2 linked regions of the Homo sapiens genome follow. The protein of the gene in region 1 interacts with the protein of each later gene in a pairwise test. Each region holds a gene or a part of one and is shown in the gene's direction. Other genes may lie near its edges. The genes, in order: PMM2 and SGK2.

The links.
Region 2: the proteins of PMM2 (region 1) and SGK2 interact in binary tests that used the Homo sapiens proteins (3 or more experiments, as listed by UniProt).

Annotation. Positions count from the first base shown.
Region 1 is NC_000016.10:8,838,577-8,850,155, forward strand, and holds the end of PMM2 (phosphomannomutase 2), read left to right. Parts: intron 1-9,147; coding exon 9,148-9,249; 3' UTR 9,250-10,749; downstream 10,750-11,579. UniProt on the Homo sapiens protein: Involved in the synthesis of the GDP-mannose and dolichol-phosphate-mannose required for a number of critical mannosyl transfer reactions.
Region 2 is NC_000020.11:43,559,031-43,570,622, forward strand, and holds part of SGK2 (serine/threonine-protein kinase Sgk2), read left to right. Parts: 5' UTR 1-129; intron 130-6,193; exon of another isoform or gene 6,194-6,256; intron 6,257-6,767; exon of another isoform or gene 6,768-7,442; 5' UTR 7,443-7,465; coding exon 7,466-7,501; intron 7,502-8,037; coding exon 8,038-8,087; intron 8,088-8,634; coding exon 8,635-8,692; intron 8,693-8,885; coding exon 8,886-8,969; intron 8,970-10,354; coding exon 10,355-10,486; intron 10,487-11,586; coding exon 11,587-11,592. UniProt on the Homo sapiens protein: Serine/threonine-protein kinase which is involved in the regulation of a wide variety of ion channels, membrane transporters, cell growth, survival and proliferation.

The DNA of each region.
Region 1 (11,579 bases):
TGTGGTAAGGGGTGATATTGTGGGGATGTTAGAAGAAACATTTGTTGTATAGAATGATTGGTGATGGTCTGGATACAGTTTTGGATGAATTGAGAAACTAAACAGAAGATCCAAGGTCCAAATAAAAGAAGGAGAAAAATGGGTATTAAAGGACTAAGAATTGGGAGGACCTAGGACATCCAATTAGAGAGTGCGTAAGGGGGTTCAGCGTAATTACTTGCTTGGTTGGCAAGTTTTTGGGCTCTATGCTTGAGTTTTTTTATGTTGTCATACATCAGGCCAGATTGATTTAGGTAAAAACAACACTCTTCATTTAAGAATATGCAGAGTCCTCTTTTTTCAACAGTGAGTAAGCAAGGCCTCGGTGGTTTTGGAGGACAACTGCAGCTAAAGAGTCAACTTGGGCCTGGAGGACTGATAAAGTTTGTGACATGTCTGTGATGCTAGCAGAGAAGTCATTAGACAGGCTACGGAAGGTCATGACAGAGGTTGAAATGCCTGCTATTCCAGTACCGAGAGCAATAGTGGAGGCAGAAAGTCCTAAACCGACCATCAAGGGAATTAGTGGAATGACTCTTCTTTGTTGTGTCGGTGTCATGAGGGGAACAGGGAGCTCTTCGTTCCTATTTGCAAATTGAATTTTGGGAGTAAGGAAGACTAGTGTGCATGTGCCTGTCCAATTAGCAGGTAGACACATGTTAGGTAAAGGATCCACAGAGGAAGAAGAGACCTTGTGCGAGGCAAAACTGGAGATGTAAAGTAAAAAGATGAGGAGTGCTGCAAGGGGTGTCTTGTACCTAGAGTCCTAGGGATCCAGCTAGGGCGGCAGCTGTCAGAGGTTGTAATGGGGACTGATGGGGTAACTGCATAGAGGGGGAGGTTCGATTTTCATGGTGTATGAGAAAACGTTGAGTATCTACAAGCAACCTTTCACTATTATTTTCGGGGCTGGGTAAAAGTAAACAAGAGGAGGGCCTGGGAGGAAGAGTCTGATGAGCAAGGGGAAAGTAGCCAAGGATGGAGTGAAATACAGGGCAAGTGTCTTCCTAAGCAATAATTACTGCTAATGTTTTTAAGTTTGTCAGTATTGATAGCGGGCTTGTCTGTAATATGGAGCTGGAAGGCTCCCATTGTTTGAGTGATGTGTGTAGTTGGACTTTGGAGATGAAGAGTAAAGGAACATCGAGAAGGTGAAAGATTACCTAGGGGAATTCCAGTGGGTCTTTGCCGAGAGATACATATAGGAGCGGCCACAGGCATAGTAGTTTGTGTTGTGAGAGGTCCGAATATGGGGGGAGAAAGGAGAAAGGAGAAAGGTTTTTTAAATAAGTGTGAAGGAGGGCGGCAGCTTGCTGATGTGAAATGTCTGGGGAAGTCTTGCTGGACCTGTCTAGAAAGTAAATGAGTTCTTCAGGAGGGTAAAGGTGAGGGCTGTTACAGGAAGTTCGGAGGTGTAGGGAGATGGGAGATGTTGCCCAGTCTGTCTGTAAGGTGGGGACAGCTGTGTAGGCACTGGAAGAAAGGGAAATGCAAAGCCAGCAGTTGTTCACTAAGGAGGGATTAGAAGCGGCTAGGAGAGAATGGGTAAGGTTGATAGTGTGGTGGAGATAGCTGGGGAGAGGTAGAGGGTGGCATAAGAATGGGAATGAGAATAAGAGTGAGTATAAAAGTAAAGAATAGAACTTCATCAGGGTGGAAATATTGGAGGGTGCCTTGCCAGCAAAGATCATCTATCCACTCTAAGAGGGAGTTAAGAGTGGCAGTTTGGGGATAGCACCAAGAGATATCAGCTGTGATGGCTTGAAGAAACAGTGTAAACCGGCCGTGTAAACAAGAGTAGGGCATTTATAAGTAGTTGAGAATGGAGAATAGGAGTATGACCAGACAGAAGATAGTAGGGATGACTAGTTTTTTGGGGCTCGGCCTAAGTGGTGGGGGTGACTTCGTAAAGCCCTGTTGCAAAAAGTAGGGTAAGGACGAAAAACCTAATAGAATGAAGGGATGTATTAGGCTCATAAGGGTTATGACTGTTCTTCGAAATACGACTGAGTTTAAGGGAAGTAGGGGAGAGTACTTGCAACTTCCAGGAGGAAGAGGAGGGATTAGGCTGGCTGTCCGATGGACACAGCTTTATTCTGGAACGGTGAGCCTAGTGGGGAGGATCCTGCAGGCGGACAGCAGTCGGGGTACTATAGATGACTAAGTAGGGTCCGGTCCATCGAGGTTGTAGAGTTTGAGGAGTCAGATTAACAAGAACTGATCGTCCAGCTAGGGTGTCTTCATATGGCTGGGGATCTGGAGTAGGCAAGAGAAGCTTAGCAGCCTGGCGAATTTCCTGTCTAGCCTGCTGGAGGACTGGAAGACAGTCGCCTAGAGGGCTGGTGTCTGGGATGAGGTTGGGGCCAAGCAAGAAAGTGCGTCCATATAAAAGTTCAAATGGACTGTACCTACCCTGTAGCATCTCGAGAACAGGCTCTAATTCTGAGAAGAGCAAGAAGTAAAAGTACTGTCCAATCCTTTTTAAGTTGGAGGCTGAGCTTGGTGATGTGTACCTTTAAAAGACCATTAGTCCGTTCTACCTTTCCTGAAGATTGAGGACTGTAAGGGATATGAAGGTTCCACTGAATACTAAGAGCCTGAGAAACTGCTTGGGTGATTTGACTAGTAAAGGCTGGTCCGTTATCAGACTGTATAGAGGTGGGAAGGCTAAACTGAGGAATTATGTCTGACAGAAGGGAAGAAATGACTGCGGTGGCCTTCTCAGACCCTGTAGGAAAGGCCTCTACTTATCTAGTGAAAGTGTCTACTTAGACTAAGAGGTATTTTAGTTATCTGACTCGGGGCATGTTGAGTGAAGCTAATTTGCCAGTCCTGGGTGGGGGCAAATCTTCAAGCTTGATGTGTAGGGAAGGGAAGGGGCCTGAATAATCCCTGAGGAGTAGTAGAATAGCAGATGGAACACTGAGAAGTTATTTCCTTGAGGATAGATTTCCACGATGGAAAGGAAATGAGAGGTTCTAAGAGGCGGGCTAGTGGCTTGTACTATAGCATAGCCTGCCTTTGCTGCTATGTGGCGATTAGGCCTGGTGGAACCGCCATCAATAAATCAAGCGTGATCAGGGTGAGGAACAGGAAAGAAGGAAATATGGGGAAATGGGGTGAATGTCAGGTGGATCAGAGAAACACAGTCATGGGGGTCAGGTGTGGTATCAGGAATAATGTGGGAGGCCAGATTGAGGTCCGGGCCAGGAACAATGGTAATTGTGGGACTTAACAAAGAGTGAGTACAGCTGAAGGAGCCGGGGAGCAGAAAGTATATGCATCAGGTATGAGGAAGAAAATGGATTTTGGAAGTTATGAGAAATGTAGAGAGTGAGTTGAGCATAGTTTGTGATTTTTACGGCCTCTAAAAGTATTAAAGCAGCGGCAGCCGCTGCACGCAGACATGAGGGCTAGGCTAAAACAGTAAGGTCAAGTTGTTTGGACAGAAAGGCTACAGGGTGTGGTCCTGGCTGTTGTGTAAGAATTCTGACCGCACTAACCATGCCTAGGAAGGAAGGGAGTTGTTGTTTTGGAAGGGATTGAGGTTTGGGAGATTAATCAGACAAGATCAACAGGCAGAGCACGTGTGTTTTTATGAGAATTATGCCGAGATAGGTAACAGATGAGGATGAAATTTGAGCTTTGGAGGGGGATACCTGATATCCTTTGGAGAGTAAATGCTGAAGGAGCAGAAGTGTGTCTTGTTGAGAAGATTCAAAGGAGGGGCTACAAAGAAGAAGGTCATCAATATATTAAATAAGGTGAGAAGCGGAGGGGTGGAAAGAAAGTAGATCATGAGAAAGAGCTTGGCTGAAGTAATGAGGGCTGTCCCTGAAACCTTGTGGCAGCACAGCCCAGGTAAGCTGCTGGGACTGATGGGTGTCAGGGTCAGTCCAGGTGAAAGCAAAGAGAGGCTGGGACAAGGGGTGCAGGGGAACGCTGAAAGAAGCATCTTTAAGATCAAGTGTGGAATAGTGAGTTGTGGAGGAAGGTATTGAGGATGAAAGAGTGTATGGGTTGGGCACCACAGGGTGGATAGGCAAAACAATTTGGTTGATAAGGCGCAGATCCTGAACTAATCTGTAAGACTTGTCCGGTTTCTGGACAGGTAAAATGGGGGGATTATAAGAAGAGTTTATAGGTTTTAGAAGCCTATGCTGTAGCAGGCCAGTGATAACAGGCTTTAATCCTTTTAAAGCGTGCTGTGGGATGGGATATTGGCGTTGAGCGGGGTAAGGGTGATTAGGTTTTAATGGGATGGTAATGGGCATGTGATCAGTTGTCAGGGAAGGAGTAGAAATGTCCCATATTTGTGGGTTAAGGTGGGGGGATATGAGAGGAAGACGCAAAGGAGGCTTTGGGTTGGGGAGAAGGGCGGCAATGAGATGCGGCTGTAGTCCAGGAATAGTCAGGGAAGCAGATAATTTGCTTAAAATATCTCGGCCTAATAAGGGAACTGGGCAGGTGGGGATAACTAAAAATGAGTGCTTCAAAGAGTAATGTCTAAGTTGGCACCAGAGTTGGGGAGTTTTAAGAGGTTTAGAAGCCTGGCCGTCCATACCCACAACAGTTATGGAGGCAAGGGAAACAGGCCCTTGAAAAGAAGGCAACATGGAGTGGGTAGTCCCCGTTTCGATTAAACAGTGGGTGGACTTACCCTCCACTGTGAGAGTTACCCAAAGCTTGGCGTCCGTGATGGTCTGGGGGCTTCCAAGGCGATTGGGCAGCGTCAATCTTCAGCCGCTAAGCCAAGGAGTCAGTCAGAGAGCCTTGGGCCAGAGTTCTAGGGGCTCTGGGAGTGGCTGCCAGGTGAGTTGAACAGTCCGATTTCCAGTGGGGTCCCGCACAGATGGGACACGGCTTAGGAGGAATCCTGGGCTGCAGGCATTCCTTGGCCCTGGTAGTCAGATTTCTGGCACGTGTAGCAAGCTCCTGGGGGAGGAGGTTCTGGAGGAACGCCTGGCCGCTGCGGTTCAGGCATTTGGAAGTTCTTGTGTGCTGGAGATGTGGCTGGGGTTTGTCTCACAGTGGAGGCAAGGAATTGCAACTTTTTTCTATTATTGTACACCTTGAAGGTGAGGTTAATTAAGTCCTGTTGTGGAGTTTGAGGGCCAGATTCTAATTTTTGGAGTTTTATTTAATGTCGGGAGCAGATTGGGTAATAAAATGTATATTGAGAATAAGACGGCCTTTTGACCTTTTAGGGTCTAGGGGCTGAGGAAGAATTGGAACCTAGCTCGGCCTGGCGAGGAGGGGAGAGGTCAGATGGGTCTGTAGAAAAGGAAGATTAGAAAGACTCAGCAACGCTTGGGGTTGGGACTGAGGGGACAGGCGGGAGGGAAAGAAGGAAGATTTGGGACGAGTTGCACTGGGCACAGAGACTAGGAAGGGACTGATGTGTAAAAGAATGCCTGGACATCAGGCACCTCAGACTGTTTGCCCATTTTACGACAAGAATTATTTAGATCTTGCAGGATGGAAAAATTGAAAGTGCCGTTTTCTGGCTATTTGGAACTACTGTCGAGTTTGTATTGGGGTCAAGCGGCATTGCAGAAGAAAATAAGGCATTTATTTAGGTTTTAGGTCAGGTATGAGTTGAAGAGGTTTTAAGTTCTTGAGAACACAGGCTAAGGGAGAAGAAGGAGGAATGTAGGAAGGTTGCCCATAGTGAAGGAGGCAAGCCCAGAGAAAAGAGAGCGTAGAGACATGGAGGGAAGGGGTTTGGGGGTTCTTACCCTCCAGAAAAGCGGGAAAGGGGTTGGGGCATGGAAATAAGGGATTGGGGCACAGAGATACGAGTTTGGGGTACTTGCCTCTCCCCCAGAAAAGCGGGACTTGCCGCTAAGGGTGAAGGAGAAGGGGTTGGGGGGTTCTTGCCCCTGCCCCAGAAAATCAGAGAAGGGGTAGAGACACGGAAAGAAGGGGTTGGGGTCCTTGCCCCTTCCTCAGAAAAGCGGGACTTGCCGCTAAGGGTTATGGACCAAGGCAGGTGTCCCTGCGTGGTCTGACACCTCTGAAACGTGGGTGAATGATCAGAGGCGTCCTTGCAATGATTAAACACCAAGGGAAGGCTGCCTTCCCAGTCCGTGACCGGCGCCGGTTTTTTGGGTCCACAGATAAAACGTCTCCTTTGTCTCTACCAGAAAATGAAAGGAATTGAAATTAAGAGAAGGGAGAGATTGAAGTGTGGCGCCTAGATTGAAAGGAGAAAGACGGTGAGGGATAGGGAGGTTGGAGAAGAGAGTAAAAAGAGGCTGCTTATTGGATTTGAAATTGGTGAGATGTTTCTTGGGCTGGTGGGTCTGAGGACCTGAGGTCGTAGGTGGATCTTTCTCATGGAGCAAAGAGCAGGAGGATAGGGGATTGATCTCCCAAGGGAGGTCTCCCGATCTGAGTCACGGCACCAAATTTCATGCGCGTCCATGTGAAGAGACCACCAAACAGGCTTTGTGTGAGCAACATGGCTGTTTATTTCACCTGGGTGCAGGCGGGCTGAGTCCGAAAAGAGAGTCGGCAAAGGGTGGTGGATTATCATTAGTTCTTATGGGTTTTGGGATAGGCGGTGAAGTTAAGAGCAATGTTTTGCGGGCAGGGGTGGATCTCACAAAGTACATCCTCAAGAGTGGGGAGAATTTCAAAGAACCTTCTTAAGGGTGGGGGAGATTACAAAGTACATTGATCAGTTCGGGTGGGGCAGAAACAAATCACAATGGTGGAATGTCATCAGTTAAGGCTATTTTTACTTCTTTTGTGGATCTTTAGTTACTTCAGGCCATCTGGATGTACACGTGTAAGTCATAGGGGATGCGATGGCTTGGCTTGGGCTCAGAGGCCTGACAGTAGGTGTTCTAGAAAGGTGTGTTGTGTTAATGTGTGAATACTGACTCCCCTCCTCAGTCACTGAGGCGGGGAGGGTGTTTGGCTCTTTTGAGGCATGTGAGAGTTGGTTGTGCCTTTGGTTTTTTGTTTGTTTTTTTTTCTTTTGAGTCTCGCTCTGTTGCCCAGGCTGAAGTACAGTGGTCTGTTCTTGGCTCACTGCAATCTCCGCCTCCCAGGTTCAAGTGATTCTCCTGCCAAGCAGCTGGGATTACAGGTGCGCACCACCACACCCAGCTAGGTTGTGCCTTTGTTAGGTTCTCTGTGACTTTTACCCACTGTGCCATTCCTGAAAGAAATCTTTTTTTTTTTTTTTTTAATTAGAAGAATTACTGGAACTAGCTTGGCACTGTTGGACACAGTCTTTGTCTCAGCTACTCGAGAGGCTGAGGCAGGAGGTTCGCTCGAGCCCAGCCTGGGCAACATAGCAAGACCCTATGTCCGAAGGAAAAAAAAGGCAAAATCAGAATTACCAGAACTGATTTCACATGTGTAGGTAGCAGATGGTGGCCATGCAATTCAGGTCTGTCTGAAGGCCCCCAGGCCTGGTACAAAACTGTGTAAGGCCAGTACAAGGCCCTGACAGGTTCCCAAGTGGCTGGACTGGAAGAGATGCCAAGTTCATGGCCTCCTAACCTGACTCCACCCAGCACTCCCTGGGCCCAGCGACGTTCCCTCCTGAAGCCTGAAATTCACCTCCACCTGAGGAGGCCATCTGCCTGGGGATAGGTTCTTGCAAAAATGAAAACACTCATTTCCAGAGGCAATTAATTCTTTTAAAGGATGTCAGATTTTTGGTACAAAATCATGGTTTCCACGTTGGCTTCATGCTCGGTGCTTTATGAGAAAAATCCCTTTTTTCTACGGTTGTGTTCATTGTATTGTAAAGCAATCGTAGATTATTTTAAGGTTTTGAGTTAGAGTGATTATCCAATTTTATGAGGGAAATAAAGGAATTCCATGAGAAAAACGGGGGCTTTCCTGCAGGGCTCGGGGTTGCGGGAGCGGCAGATAACCTGATTCATTAACGTGAGCCCAGTGGGATTGGTGGGGGTGATGGGGACACAGATGGGAGCACTCAACTCAGGCACAGGACCCCAGCAGAACATGCCCAGGTCCTCCTAGACATGGGCCCTTGCAGACTTTCTGAGGCCTCGGTTTCGTCATCTTACCAAGGTGTGACCCCAACCATCATCTCCTGAACTTCTGGCCACAGAGCTGTGAGCAAGCTTCCATCATGACCCCATTTTGGAGATGGGGAGTTGGCGCAGCCACACTGCTGCTCAGTGGTAGAACCAGCATCTGACCCAGGCCACCTGTTCCAGAGACCCTGCTTTTAGCCAGCAGCTCAGACCCCAGTCATGTGGGGCCATTTATTTATTTATTTAAGATAGAGTCTCCCTTTGTCGCCCAGGCTGGAGTGCAGTGGTGCGATCTCGGCTTACTGCAACTTCCACCTCCCGAGTTCAAGCAATTCTCCTGCCTCAGCCTCCCGAGCAGCTGGGATTTCAGACGTGCGCCACCATGCCCAGCTAATTTTTGTATTTTAAGTAGAAATGGAGTTTTGCTGTGTTAGCCAGGTTGGTCTCAAATTCCTGACCTCAAGTGATCCACCCTTCTCAGCCTCCCAAAGTGCTGGGATTACAGGCATGAGCCACCATGCCCGGCCCACGTGGGGCTGTTTAAATTAAAATCAAATTAACTGAGTTCCTCCATTGCATTGGCCACGTTTCAAGTGTGCAGAGTGACACATGGCCAGTGGCTGCCATCACCGCTGATGTCGCCACGTCCCTCATCACAGGAATATCCCTGGCAGCCCTGCTCCCGGCCCTCTGCCCTCCTGACGCTCCCTTGTGACTTGTTAGAAAAGCGTAGGTACAGCTAAAAAAAAAAAAAAAACTGATGGCTGTGAGAATACTGTCACTCGCTGATGCCTTCTGTGTAGAAAAATAAGCCTTAGACAGATCTTCGCAAGAACATCGTGATGGCTCTCATAGGCATAATTACGTGTTCCAAGCCAAATTGCAGTTCAAGAGAAGGTTATAAATCTCTTCTTAATAACAATTGTACTCACGTTCCTCTCCTGGAAACTAAGAGGAAGGTAGCTGAAGAAACTCTCCCTGCCCAGTTAAATCTTGTTTTTTGGGTACTTTTGGACTCCAGGGTCACATCAGCAATGGCCCGGGACAGACGAGGGGGAGCCTTCATCTGTACTTCGTGTCTTTCCAGGGTGGCAATGACCATGAGATCTTCACAGACCCCAGAACCATGGGCTACTCCGTGACAGCGCCTGAGGACACGCGCAGGATCTGTGAACTGCTGTTCTCCTAACGTGGGAGCGGGAGGGGCGGGGTCCCGGCTGACAAGCCAGCATAGGGCATTCGGTGGCCAGAGCCGAGGGTCCTCCCACACGTGCTCACCCACCCGCAGCCTAGGCAGGCTCTGCATGCTATGCCAGGCATGTGCAGTCTGGACTTCCACCTCCAGTGCCAGAAACTTCCAGAAGGAAGGAGAAAACTCTTGTCAAGAATGGCCCAGAGGAATGCCTCGCACAAAAGGTCTTCCCCACCCACCCCCAGCCCCCTAGTCTAATACCCACCCTGATACGTGCAATCATGTAGTTTTGGCGGAAATTTCCCCATCATTCTAGGATGATACAGAAAGAAAAACTGTGCCTGGACCCTCCCTCTTGGTGGGTCTGTGGAAACATAAGCGGTTTTTTTAATGGGCCCCTGCATCAATACCAAACATGGGGGTTTGGTAATGAGAAACCAGGACAGGCCATCTGCAGTGACCCAGCCCAGGACGAAGTTTACAAACACCTCCTGGAACGAAGCTCCCGCCTGCATGTCACCTTGATGGGGGCTGTGAGTGGGGCAGTGTGATACCCAGTGACTAGACGCACTCTGCGTTTTCCCGTGTTTGGGGCTGAGGCCTGCTGGACAGATGGCTGGCCAAGTGGGAGCAGACCCTAGGGAGTTTGCACCTCGGCTGGGCCGGATTCGGACCGGCTCTGTGTTCACTACACTCAGAATAGCCTGGCTGCTTCTCTGTCTCCGAGACCGGAGGTAGTGGGAACCAACAGCTGGGCTGGAGAGTTGGTGCTGGCAAAACAGTCCTTGCCCTGGGGCCGGTTCTTACCCAGGTCCAGAGAAACCAACGCGGGATGTCAGACTTCACCAAAAGGACTTTCTGGTTGCCCCTGGCTGGCTTCCTGGAGGCGTTCGCCTCTAGTTTCTCAGGGATGGAGCGAGAGCCCAGCCAGAGAACAGTAAGAGGAGCTGCTCTCCTATCTGCACTCACCCAGGCCTTCACCCAGACTTTACCACGGAGGCGGCTGAGTGCAGCTACAGCTAGGTCCGCGTCCCTCACTCTTTTCATCTTCTGCACGTTCTTCGTGAAACTGGAAGGATCCCGGGTCTCAGCTAGAACACGGTGGAAGAGAACTTTCCTAGGAAACGGTTCATGTGTCACTTTTCAGGATGTGGAAACACTGAGCCATACACCCTCCATTGCTTGGTGCTGGGGTTGTGTGGCCTCCACTGGGCACTTGCCGACCTGAGTCTGGGGCCAGGGGAGCCCAGGCTGCCCTGCACTCCTGCCTCCCAGCCCACAGCCAGGTGCTTTCATCACAGCTAAACCTGGTTCCCTCCAAACCTCCCAGCCACTCGGGCTTGTAACTGTCTGAGCCCCGGATCCGGTGGGGTGAAAGCAGCCAGCTCATCCCAGTGACTCACAGGACACAGCCATCCAGCGGCATCTTTCCTTGTCGAATGATACTGTAATGACCTTCCAAAGTGAAGAGTAGCACATTAAAGTGATTTTATTGTTTCCTGTTTCTCATTCCGATTTCTTTTTCCTCCTATGTTCCCAGATTCTGGAATGGAACCCCAGCCCTTCCAGGTCTGAGAGCCACTCTTTCTTTACTCTGGATTTCTGTCACATCGGGGGCCCCTCCCTCTGCGGAGTTGCATGTTGCTGTTCCTGATGCACAGACTCCTCCCCCGCTGCTTTTCTGCCCACTGGGTCAGGATCTGCCATTCTTTACAAGTTTCCTTAACGTATTGCGTCAAAGCGAGACAACCGAGTCTTACTCAAACTTGTTTTAACCGGAGATGGAGGGTTGCTGCTGTGTCACCGCCTGCACAGGGCTGCCCTCAGGTGAGTACCCCGAGTCTGCCAGGCTGGGTGCTGATGCGCGGAGGTTTGGGCCGTCCCTGCCCCAGTTCCCACAGTGGCTGCTTGAGACCCTCCCCAGGCCCCTCGAGCCCCTCCTGCACTGTCTGCTGCCTCCCTTCTGCAGTCAGAATTGACACTCCCCTTCCACCTTCTTTGTCATCACATTGCATCCCAGGCCAGCTTCCTGGGGCTTACTCCAAGGGCATCGGCTTGCCCCGCACTGTGGTGGGATGTAAAGTGATAACAGCTAAACGACGCATGCACAACATGTCCTGGTGCCTTCTGCGTGACCCCAGAGCAGCAGGTTCTGCACATGGCAGGTAAGAGCACAGCTGCCAAGACCCCAAGCCTAGTTCTGCTGCTACAAGCTGCTGCGTGACTTAAGGTGAGTTCATCTTCGCCTCAGTTTCCTCCTCTGTCAAATGGGATAGTCCTTACCGTGTATGGAATTTAAAGCACTTTGAACAGTGAGTGTGAGCCAT
Region 2 (11,592 bases), on another chromosome or scaffold:
CTGACTGGGAAGGTTGCTTGACAAGTCAGGATTGTGCCTCCAGTCAGAAGGACCATGAAGAGAGAGAAGAGGGCAGAGCCGTGCATGGGGCTGCTCCCCAGGACCTGAGCAGGAACCTGGAGTTTTCAGGTGAGAGGCTCACCTGTGAGCAGGATACCTGCCTGCTCGCCTATTGGTCTCCAGATTGACTAGTTACCTAGCTAACATCTTTCCTAGTACCTGTTTACTTTCTTTCCTTCCTTTCTTCCTTGGCGACTTCTTTCCCTTCTCCCTCCTTCCTTTCCTTCCTTCCCTCCCAACTATCTGCTTTCTCAGCTGCCTAATTTTCTTCCTCCTTAACTAACCAACTTACATCCTCACTTCCTTCCCACTGACTTCATTTTTTCCTTTTCTAGCTTTCTATTGTCTTCCTGAAATTCCAGGCCGTGGGCTTTGCAGTCAGATGGCCTGGGTTCAAATCCTGGTTATGTCATTTATTAACTGTCTTGATCATGTCACTTCCCTGTCCTTGCCTCAGTTTTCTCCTCCTTGAAACAGGGACGATGATAGTTCCTAACCCGTGGGGTTGTGGGAACAAAATAAGATCAAGTTGGCACTTGAACTGGGCAGGCGTGTAAATGAACAAGTTACAGTGAAGACAGGGACAGCAGCAGGAGAGGGTGCATGGGATCGGAGGGTCATCTGGCTTCCAGGAAAGGCAATGAGAACAGGTGAAAAGGTGAGCTGGAAAGACCAGGTTTGTTGGGGAATGTTCCAAGGAGAGAGAACTGTGTGACACTGTCCCACCCCCACACCCCATTTGGCAGGGCCAGGGAGCTGTAAGCAGGTCCATGTAACAGTGGGACAGAGGGAGGCAAGTCTGGGCTGTGGCAAGTTAGGAAAGGGACAGGCTTGAGGACTCATGGAGGGGCTTGAGTGGGAGTTTGCGGAGTCTGAAGAGTTAGGAGAATATATTGATGTCCAGCTTCTGGCCAGAAAATTAGAACACCGTGGTGCGAGAGAGAAGAAAGCCTTAGGAACTGAGGGCTGCTTAGGCATGGGGGTCACAGTCAAGGTGATGGGGGAGGGTGTGATGGGCCATGGGCATGCCAGGTTCCCACCAGGAACTCAGTACTTGAATATTAACTCAACAGCAATATCTTGAGAAGCTTTACACAATAGTACAAAGATAAAAGTTAAAATAACCGGCCGGGTACAGTGGCTCACACCCGTAATCCTAACACTTTGGGAGGCCGAGGCAGGCGGATCACCTGAGGTCAGGAGTTTGAGACCAGCCTAGCCAACATGGTGGAACCTCGTCTCGACTAAAAATACAAAAATTAGCCGAGCGTCGTGACACATGCCCGTAATCCCAGCTATTTGGGAGGCTGAGACAGGAGAATTGCTTGAACCCAGGAGGCGGAGGTTGCAGTGAGCAGAGATTGCGCCACTGCACTCCAGCCTGGGCGACAGAGCGAGACTCCATCTCAAAAAAAAAAAAAAAAAGTTAAAATAACCTAACCTAAGAACCCGCTGTGACCTTGGGTCATGACCCTGCAGTCTTTTTTTGGCAGCTGTGCTCACAAATGTGTACGTGCAGACATGTCTTTTGTTTTTCTTTTACAAAATTGGTACCCCTACAACACCTACTATTTTGAAACTTGGTTTTTTGCTTGATATTGTATCACATGTATGTTCCTGTTTTGGTTTATATAGGTTTTATATAGTTTTTGGTTGTGTAATTTTCCACTTTATATATGTACCAACATTTATCAATTCATTTATTGATTCATTAGTCAAATTGTACTGGGCATCTACTATATTCCAGGCCCTGTGCTCAGTGCTGAGGATTCAATAGTTGAACAGGAAGTATTTGCCCTCCTGGAGCTGATGTTCTAGTTGGAGATAGAAAATAAAAACTAATAAATACGTGATAAGGCATCAGTGCTACAAAGTAAAATATAAAGTAGACAAAATGTATAGGGAATGAGCAGGACTGGTATCAGAGTGACTAACCATCCTGGTTGGCCCAGGACTATAGCGGTTTTAGCACTGAAACCCATCAGTCCCAGACAAACCAAGATGACTTGTCACCCGTAATCAGTACAAGCCTCTCCAAGAGGTGACTTTAAGCAGAAGCCTCTATGACGTTAGTGGAAAACAGCCATGCAGGTGCCTGGGGGAAGAGTGTTGTAGGCAGAGGGAAAACTAAGTGCAAGGGGCTGGAGGCCAGAGAGCACTTAGTGTGTCTGAGGGACAGCAAGAGAAAGGAGAGAGGCTGAGGGCAGTCAGGAAGGAGGGGAGTGGAAGCCAAGGAGGAGATGGAGACAGCAAGCTAGGTCATATGGATCTCATAAACCATGGTAGAGGCTTTGGATTTTTTTTTTTTTTTTTTTTTTGAGACAGAGTCTTGCTCTGTCACCAGGCTGGAGTGCAGTGGCGTGATCTCAGCTCACTGCAACCTCTGCCTCCTGGGTTCAAGCTATTCTCCTGCCTCAGCCTCCTGAGTAGCTGGGACTACAGGCACATATCACCACGCCCAGCTAATTTTTGTATTTTTAGTAGAGACGGGGTTTCACCATGTTGGCCAGGATGGTTTCGATCTCTGACCTCATGATCCACCCGCCTCGGCCTCCCAAAGCACTGGGATTACAGGTGTGAGCCACCGCGCCCAGCTGAGGCTTTGGATTTTAATTCTAGGTGTGTTGAGAAACCACTGGAGTTTTTGAGCAACTAAGGCACATGATCTGATTTACATTTTAAGACTCACCGTGGCTTTTCATAGAGAAAGATTGTAGTGGGTAAATGGAGAAGCAGGGGTCAGTGGAGAAGCCATTGCAATAATCCATTCAAGTGACAATGGGGGCTCAGGCAGGGCGGTTGCAGCAATGATGGTGAGCAGCAATGGTTTCTGGATATATTTTGAATGGAATTTCATGATGGAGTGGAGGCGGAGTGAGGGTGCAAGCTTTCTAGAATGAACTCAAAGTTGCTGGCTTGAACTTTTGAGTAGGCGGTAGTGCCATTATTGAGGCTGAAGACTGAGGGAGGAGCAGACTGGGGCAGAGTGGAAGGAATATGAGTCAAGACCTTTGTTTTGGACATGTTAACTTCGAGATACCAGCCAGGCGCAGTGGGTCACGCCTGTAATCCCAGCAATTTGGGAGGCCGAGGCAGGAGGATTGCTTAAGCTCATGAGCTCAAGACCAGCCTGGGCAACATAGTGAAACCCTGTCTCTACAAAAAGTACAAAAAAAAATTAGCCAAGCCTGGTGGTGTGTGTCTATAGTCCCAGCTACTCAGGAGGCTGAGGTGGGAGAATAGCTTGAGCCAGGGAGGTAAAGATTGCAGAGAGCCTAGATCACTCCACTACACTCTAACCTGGGCTGCAGAGCTAAACCATGTCTCAAAAAAAAAAAAAAAAAAAAAAAAAAAGATTGAGATGCTTTGGCTGGGCACGGTGGCTCACACCTGTAATCCCAGCACTTTGGGAGGCAGGGGTGGGTGGATCACATGAGGTCAGGAGTTCGAGACCAGCCTGGCCAACATGGTGAAACCCAGTCTCTACTAAAAATACAAAAATTAGCCAGGCGCAGTGGCGGGTGCCTGTAATCCCAGCTACTCGGGAGGCTGAGGCAGGAGAATCGCTTGAACCAGAAAGCGGAGCTTGCAGTTAGCCAAGATTGTGCCATTGCACTCCAGCCTAGGCAACAGAGTGAGACTCTTTCTTAAAAAATAAATAAATAAATAAAGATTGAGATGCCTCTAGACATCTGACTAGTGAATTGTCAAGGAAGCAGTTAAATATTTAAATCCAGAGTTCAGGAGAGAATCAGAACTAGGCTGGGCGCAGTGGCTCACGCCTGTAATCCCAACACTTTGGGAGGCCGAGGCAGGCAGATCACTTGAGGTCAGGAGTTCGAGACCAGCCTGGCCAACATGGCGAAACCCCATCTCTACTTAAAAAAATACAAAAATTAGCCGGGTATGGTGGCGGGCACCTGTAGTCCCGGGTACTCAGGAGGCTGAGGTGGGAGTATCACTTGAACCTGGGAGGCAGAGGTTGCAATGAGTTGAGATAGCACCACTGCACTCCAGCCTGGGTGACAGAGCAAGACTCTGTCTCAAAAAAAAAAAAAAGAAAGAAAGAAAAAAAAAGATTTGGGAACTGACAAGTATAGTTGGTTAAACCACTAAAATGGTAGTGATCAACTAAAGAACAAGTACGTGTAGACAGAAGCCCAAAGACTAAGCCCTGGGATAGGCCTGTGTTTAAGGATAAAAAGAGGAGGAAAATCCAGCACAAGAGATGGAGGAAGAGCAGTCAGTGAGCTAGAAGGAAAACCAAGAGTTCCTAAAGCCAAATGGGGAACATGAGCACACCAAATTCTTCAGAGAAGTTGAATAAGATGAGGATGAGGAACTCATCACTGGCTTTGGCACATAGAGGTCACTGGTCCACGGTTTCATTGAAGTGTTGGGATGAGAGCCCATTTGGAACGGGCTCAAAAGAGAACAGGAAGAGGACTGGAGACAAGGAGTCCAGACAACTCTTTCAAAGAGTTTAGCTGAAAAGGGGTACAAAGAAATGGGACCATATCTGGACACGGTATATGGTCAAGAGAGGGAGCTCTTGCAGCTGGCAAGTGTTCTGAAGTGCTCTGTGGTGGGACACTTAGGTTACTATTAGCACAATTATTTTGCTGTTATAAATAGTGCTGCTGAATGAAGGCCACATCAGGATCTTGTTTTTGAAAATAAATGTCCTTGTTCTGGGTATGTGTTTTGTCAACATGACATCCTGCTGATCATGAATTGGTTCCACATTTCTATTTTGTTCAAGATGGAAGGCTTTGATACTGTGCACTCAGGTTTTCTCTGGTCAACACTTCCAGATCCTCCGCATTTCAGAACCCACAGAGAACCCCTGAGGCCCCTGGGCTCAGTTCCCTCCCTGACCAACTTTCTGGGCCCTAGCCCCATGTGTCCCTCCCCTGTAGTATACTGTAGCCACACAGAAAGTTTGAGAAGGGCAGGGGCTGTGGGCCCATCAACTCCTTTATTCTTGAGAACATCTGCCTACCCCTCGGGATCCTGGGGAGAGGAAGGGACCCTGTGAGAACCTAATGACCGCCCCAGGCAGCAAGGCCTTCATGAGCCAGGGTGCTCTCTGGGACCGTTTCTTACGCAGCAGGAGAGTCGTGGGCCAACCAGGCCTGCCCTGAGGACTGGGCCAGAGCCCTTGAGGGGCCCGCAGGGAAAGGCCAAAAGGACCAAGTGCTCATTAAAGACCAAGGCAGGCTGGACTGAGCTAGACACCCAGGCTCCAGGTTCCTTCCTCTGAAACATCTGCAGGTTTTTGGGAGGCGAAGGGCTCTCAGCTGCCATGGCTGATGTCTGGGGACTTTTTCTTCAGCTCCAGATGGTCTACACAGGGTTCGTATACACAGGCCCCCTAGCCGCACGCATGCGTGCATGCACGCGCGCACACACATACACACACACACCCCAGAGTAAATTCACTGATATACACCACTATGAACACACACAATGACTTACCTATACACACATATTAATAGACACCCATACTGCTCTTAACACACACCTTCAGACATCCACACAGACTCACACTCACCCACATACACACACACTGACACAGCATATTCACATACAAAGATACACACTGATATGTACCACACAGAGACACGCTGAAACACATCCATATGCACACCACACACACTGAGATACAGTGACACACACAGTCACAGATGCACAGACATATGCTGATGTAAATGTACAAATGTGGTCACACTGACACATACATGCAATCATCTACGCAGACTCATAGAAACCGACACAAATACCTGAAATACACAGCCACAGACAGACACACACGGAAGCACTCTATGCACAAAACACTCACACAGTACACACCATGCTGCACATACCCTGACCCAAACAGTCTAACAAGCCCTGAGGGTCTCCAGGGCTGCCCTGGGGCTATTGCCCACCCCTCCCACCGTCCCCGCTAGGGTGAGATGGTGTTCCCCAGGGAACAGAAGTCTCCAGTCCCATCTTAAGCTCTGCCGGATCCCGCGTGACATCAGCTAGCCCCCTCGCGGCTGCCGGGAGCTGTGAGCTCTGTGCTGGGGCCAGGCCGGCACCAGGCACAGACACTTAGGCCCTTGTTGGGAGAACAGAGAGAGGCTCTCTTGTCCACTGCCTGTCTTCGGTTCCAACTGCTGGTTCTCCTAGAGGCCTCTCCTCAGACTCGCAGGTATGTGGGACCAGGGAGGCCGGGTCCTGGCCAAAGGGCCACTGGGGTCAGCCCAGGAGAGGGTGTGGCAGTGTTGTGGGCCGTTTGCAGGAGCACACACGTCTGGCATTGGCTAGGGGCAGGCTGCGCTTCCTTAGCAGTTCTGCAGCTTGCTCTTAAGGCTTGGCAGGGCTGGGCCTCTCAGGGAAGCCTGGGCTGGGGGATCCTCTCAGTTCCCCTTCACTTTCTCTGTTCCCAAGAAGGCCATGAGGTTGGTGCCTCCAGGACCCCCCCTTGTAAAGATAGGAAATCTCTACTCAGAGAGGCTGGGCTGCAGCCCAGGCCCCACAGTGGGCCAAGACTAAGGTCTTGAGATGCGCGGCAACTGGGCTTTCAGGTGAGATCTCTGCTCTCAGCCTTTGCCAAGCAAGGATGAGACTGTGGGGCCCCAAGCAATCTGTGGCAGGGCCTGGGCACCCTGGCCCCGTCTCCCCTGCAGGGTGGAAGCAAGGAAGACACTATTCCTGGCCACATAGATCAGCTGGTCACACCTTCTGTTGTTTGGCCCCGAATAGATATTGGCCAGTCTTGGGTCTCTCTGTGGCCCCAGCCCAAGGCTTCCAGGGCAGCTGCCTTTCCTGAGGCATTGGGCAGAATTCCTTGTGGCAAGGAGATCGTAGCACAGAGCCCAGCTGGGACTGCGCACAGTAATTCAGGGTTGCCATTGTTCCTCTATGGGAGTCCGGAGAGCCCAGCCTGTGCTTCACAAGGCTATGTGGCCCTAGGAAGGTCCTTTTTTAGGCCACAGGCCTTCCATCTGTGAAATGGGGGATGGGTTCAGACTTTATGCCCTGAAAAGATCCTTCCAGCCCTGGCCATCTTGGACTTCTGGAGCTACCCTGGCTCACAGGGGTCTTGTTGCCCTGGGTGTCCCCAGTTCTTGAAAAGAATCAGCCTGGGAGGGGCCACACCCTGACCATCCCCCTTTATCCCTTCTGAGATGTTTGTTAGGAAGTCTGGGTCCAGGGGATATCATTTCTTGTTCCATCCATGCAGGGGTTGCTTACCTCGGGTAGGAAACCCTCAGGCGGTGGCAGGTGCACAGGTAGGGGAGGATGGAGAGGGCAGTGGTGCCTGAAGCCCTGGATGGGCGGAGCTGACCCCCCAACACCAACTCTCTCATGCCTGCTCCTCCCTGTCCCCCCAGAGCTGCCTGATCATTGCTACAGAATGAACTCTAGCCCAGCTGGGACCCCAAGTCCACAGGTGAGTGGTTCTTGGTCCCCCACCCATCATCGGGGGCTCACTTCTTCCCGAGGCTAAGGAAATCTGTGGGTCCCAGACAATGTCAGGGGCTGAGAGGGTTACTGCGAGCACATAGAAATGAGCCACTTGCAGGGTGAATAGAGTAGAGATTTGAAATAGGGCTTCAAGATGAACTGGAAAAATCATGAGATTTGTCATGGAGACACCTGGGTCGTATCCCAACCTGGTTGCCTGTGAGACCCTGGGCAACTCCTCTCTGGGCCTCAGTTTCCTCGCCTATTCAATTAGCACAACAGCCAGCTGCCTCCCAAGGCTGTTTTGAGAAGTGGGTAAGATGGTGGATAAGTGGATTTGTGGGTGGGTAGAAGGAGGGAGGGAGGGAGGGAGGCGGGCAGGCGGGCAGGTGAAAAAAAAAGAAAAGAAAAAGGCAGGCAGGCCTAGTAGAGTTGTTGGAGAAGGGATCAGGGCCTGGGCCAGGAGAAAGGGAGGTAGCCAAGGAGTAGGGATCTGCTGATCATAATCACTTCTTTCTTTAGCCCTCCAGGGCCAATGGGAACATCAACCTGGGGCCTTCAGCCAACCCAAAGTGAGTTCTGGTCCCTCAAGCACCTTTCCTACTTGACTCCCCTCATACCTGGCTCCCCTTGCCTTGGGAATAAAATCCAGATTCTCTGGTCTAGCATTCAAGACTGTCTGCCATCTGGGCCCAGGACCTTTCCCCAGCTCTATCTCCCACAAATTCCCCAGCCTCTGCCCATGCTGAACCCTCTTCCTGCAATGCCACCTAAATGTCTGCATTGTTAGCAACTCCCCACACTTCAGGCCCTTCTGAGGGGCTTTGGGTACCAGAACCCTGCCTTCTATGCAGGCCTTCTGTGCAGTATGTCTGGTTTTATCTCTACCCTCTGCCTGTTGTTTAACTTGAATTTGAGTTCCCCTGGGGCCAGGGTGAATCTTACAAGCCCTCTTTCGGCTGGGAGAACATGGGGTTCTTCGGGGGTGAGGAGGCATGGCTCCTGGAAGGCTCTCTGTATTTCCCCATTCTAAAGTTAAAAAGAAGCCCAGGTTTGTTCTCAGGCACCAGGTTTCCAGACATTGCAAATGCTGATCCGTGTTTTTCCCTCTTCCCCCAGTGCCCAGCCCACGGACTTCGACTTCCTCAAAGTCATCGGCAAAGGGAACTACGGGAAGGTGAGTGACTTGGTGAGGGTGGGAAGCCTGGGTCTTCCCTTCTGCAGCCTCTTCCAGCCCCTGCTGCCACTTGTATGTATGAAGAGAGAGCACTCGCACCTGCAGACAAAAGCAGGGGCAGGCGGGAGGCCTTGTACTGCTGTTGGGAAGTCCAAAGTCACCTACAGGGCCTCAAATTCATGTTTCTTCTCAGGTCCTACTGGCCAAGCGCAAGTCTGATGGGGCGTTCTATGCAGTGAAGGTACTACAGAAAAAGTCCATCTTAAAGAAGAAAGAGGTACCAGAGCTCGGGCACAGGCATTTCTTCTTCTGCTTCTCAAGCCGCAGCCTAGGGTGGCTTTCAAAGATGGGTCCCACCTCTGACAGGTCCATGGGCCTGGGTGCAGAAGTGGTCACAACAAAGGGTAGAGGGGAGGTGGTACGCAGGATGCTGGCCCTTCTCAAAGAAAGCAGGCCAAGCCATCTCACCACAGGGCTTTCAGGAAAACCAGCCTGGCTTTGCCTTCCCCTGGGAAACACAGGCTCCACGATGGACAAGTCTTCTGCCTGCTCCAAGTGCCAGGCTCCCCATCTGTATAATGTGGAGCCCCACTTTATTCTCTCTGAAGACCCTTCATGCCATCAGGCCATATGGCTGGAGTGCAGTAGTGCAATCACAGCTCACTGCAGCCTCAAACTCCTGGGCTTAAGCAATCCTCCCGCCTCAGCCTCCCAAAGTGCTGGGGTTAGAGGCATGAGCTACATGCACAGCACATCATGGACTTCTTTTTTTGTTGTTGAGACAGAGTCTTGCTCTGTCACCCAGGCTGGAGTGCAATGGCACCATCTCAGCTCACTGCAACCTCCGCCTCCTGAGTTCAAGTGATCTCATGCCTCAGCCTCCCCAGTAGCTGAGACTAAAGGCACCCGCCACCACTCCTGGCTAATTTTTGTATTTTTAGTAGAGATGGGGTTTTGCCATGTTGGTCAGGCTCCTGGCCTCAAGAGATCCGCTGGCCTCAGCCTCCCAAAGTGCTGGGATTACAGGCATGAGCTACCACACTCAGCCCCATCATGGATTTCTTGATGCCTCAGCTGACCTGAGTTCCTTTAACACCTGACTCCATTAGTAGGCCAGAGCAGGCCCAGAGAGAGGATTGCATAGGAGGTTGGGGGACTCAGAGAAAAGAGAGATTAATGTTAACAAGGTCTCCGTGGGGGGTGGAATGGGAGGTCTTCCTGAGGGAGGCAGCGGTGCAGCTGGCCTTGATGGTGGGATTCTGATGGTCTGAAAAGAGGGTGCGACATCCAGGAAGAGGAAATAGCATGAGCAAATACATGAATATGGATAGTGTGTGGCTTCTTTCCCTTAGGAACTCAGTTATGTAGGCATCACACATGCTTTGCTTTTCACTCCAAGGGCAAGAAGCTCTGATACAGGGGCTAGAGCTGTGCCCACATGAACTAGCTTAGGATGAGGCTGACCACCCTGAGCCCTGAATACTAAGGAAGGAACTTGGGCCTGGCTCTAAGGGCAATAGGGAGCCATTGTGGGTGTTTGAGCAGGGGCATGAGAAAGTCCTGGGTAGGATGACCCCCACCCACAAGCTTATATGGGCTGAGCCGGGATAAAAGAGGCTGTTGTGGGCTGTGACATGGACCCCTCTCTTTGTGACTCCACAGCAGAGCCACATCATGGCAGAGCGCAGTGTGCTTCTGAAGAACGTGCGGCACCCCTTCCTCGTGGGCCTGCGCTACTCCTTCCAGACACCTGAGAAGCTCTACTTCGTGCTCGACTATGTCAACGGGGGAGAGGTGGGTGGGCCCACAGGGAGGCTTCCCTGGGCTGGCTCTCGGCTGGGAGCTGTCCATCCCACATGCCCACTGCATGCCAAGTTCTGGAATGATCTCACTTCATCTTACAATAGACCCATTTTGTAGCTAAAGAAACTGAGGTTCAGGGAGGTAATCATTTGCTCAAGGCCACCCAGCGCATACCTGGTAGAGTCAGGACTTGAATTCAGGTCTGTTAGACTCCCCACCATAATGCTTTCTTGCCTTCCTCATTCAGAGTTGCCCATAGACGCACTTTGATAGGCCCGGGAAAGGTCAATGCTAAGAGGAGCTCGTGGTCAAGGTTTCTAGTGCTCCCATAGGCCACAGGGTGGGATTGACTGGTCACTGTGGTAAACAGAGACCTCAAGGCCACCTGGTGACCCAGAAGCACAGCTGGGACAAGCAGAGCTCCCTCCTGGGCTTCACTCTGTCTCTCTGGTCAAGATGCAAAATGTAGTGGAGCTCCAGTCAGTGACCCCAGATTTAACCTGCGTGATCTCTTGCCTTTCAGAATGATGCTAAGAGGGGGGTTTTTGTCCTGCATCCCTAAGTGAAGGGCTTTCCATGCCAGCAAAATAGTCCAAAAACATTGGCCCATGGGTGGATCTAACCTGAGCTCAGTCTGACAGCCGTATCATCATATCGCCTGGATTGATGGAAAAGCATAATCTTTGAACCACGCAGGTTCAAATGCCAGCTCTGCCAATTATAAGCTACATGACCTTGGGCAAGTCGCCTAACCATTCTGACCCCTCCTAGCTTCCTCTTACATGAAACTAGCATGACACTTGTACCTTGAAGGTTGTCATGAGGATTAAATAAGAGATGTGGAAGGGCCTGACTTGGAACCTGGAACACAGGAGGTGCTTAAGCAATGCTAACTCATCTCTTCTTCTGCTGACTCTTTGGACACCCGGGACTGCTGTGTGGGGCAGGGGCCAGCATGCACTCTTTTGGTAGGAAGAATGCTGCAGGTCAGAGAGGGAGTGAGCTCGCAGCCGCACAGGGCGGGGAGCAGGTGCACCCTAGCCCTACAGCAGCCACCCAATAACTCCTGTCACACTCCTCCTCCCCTCCAGCTCTTC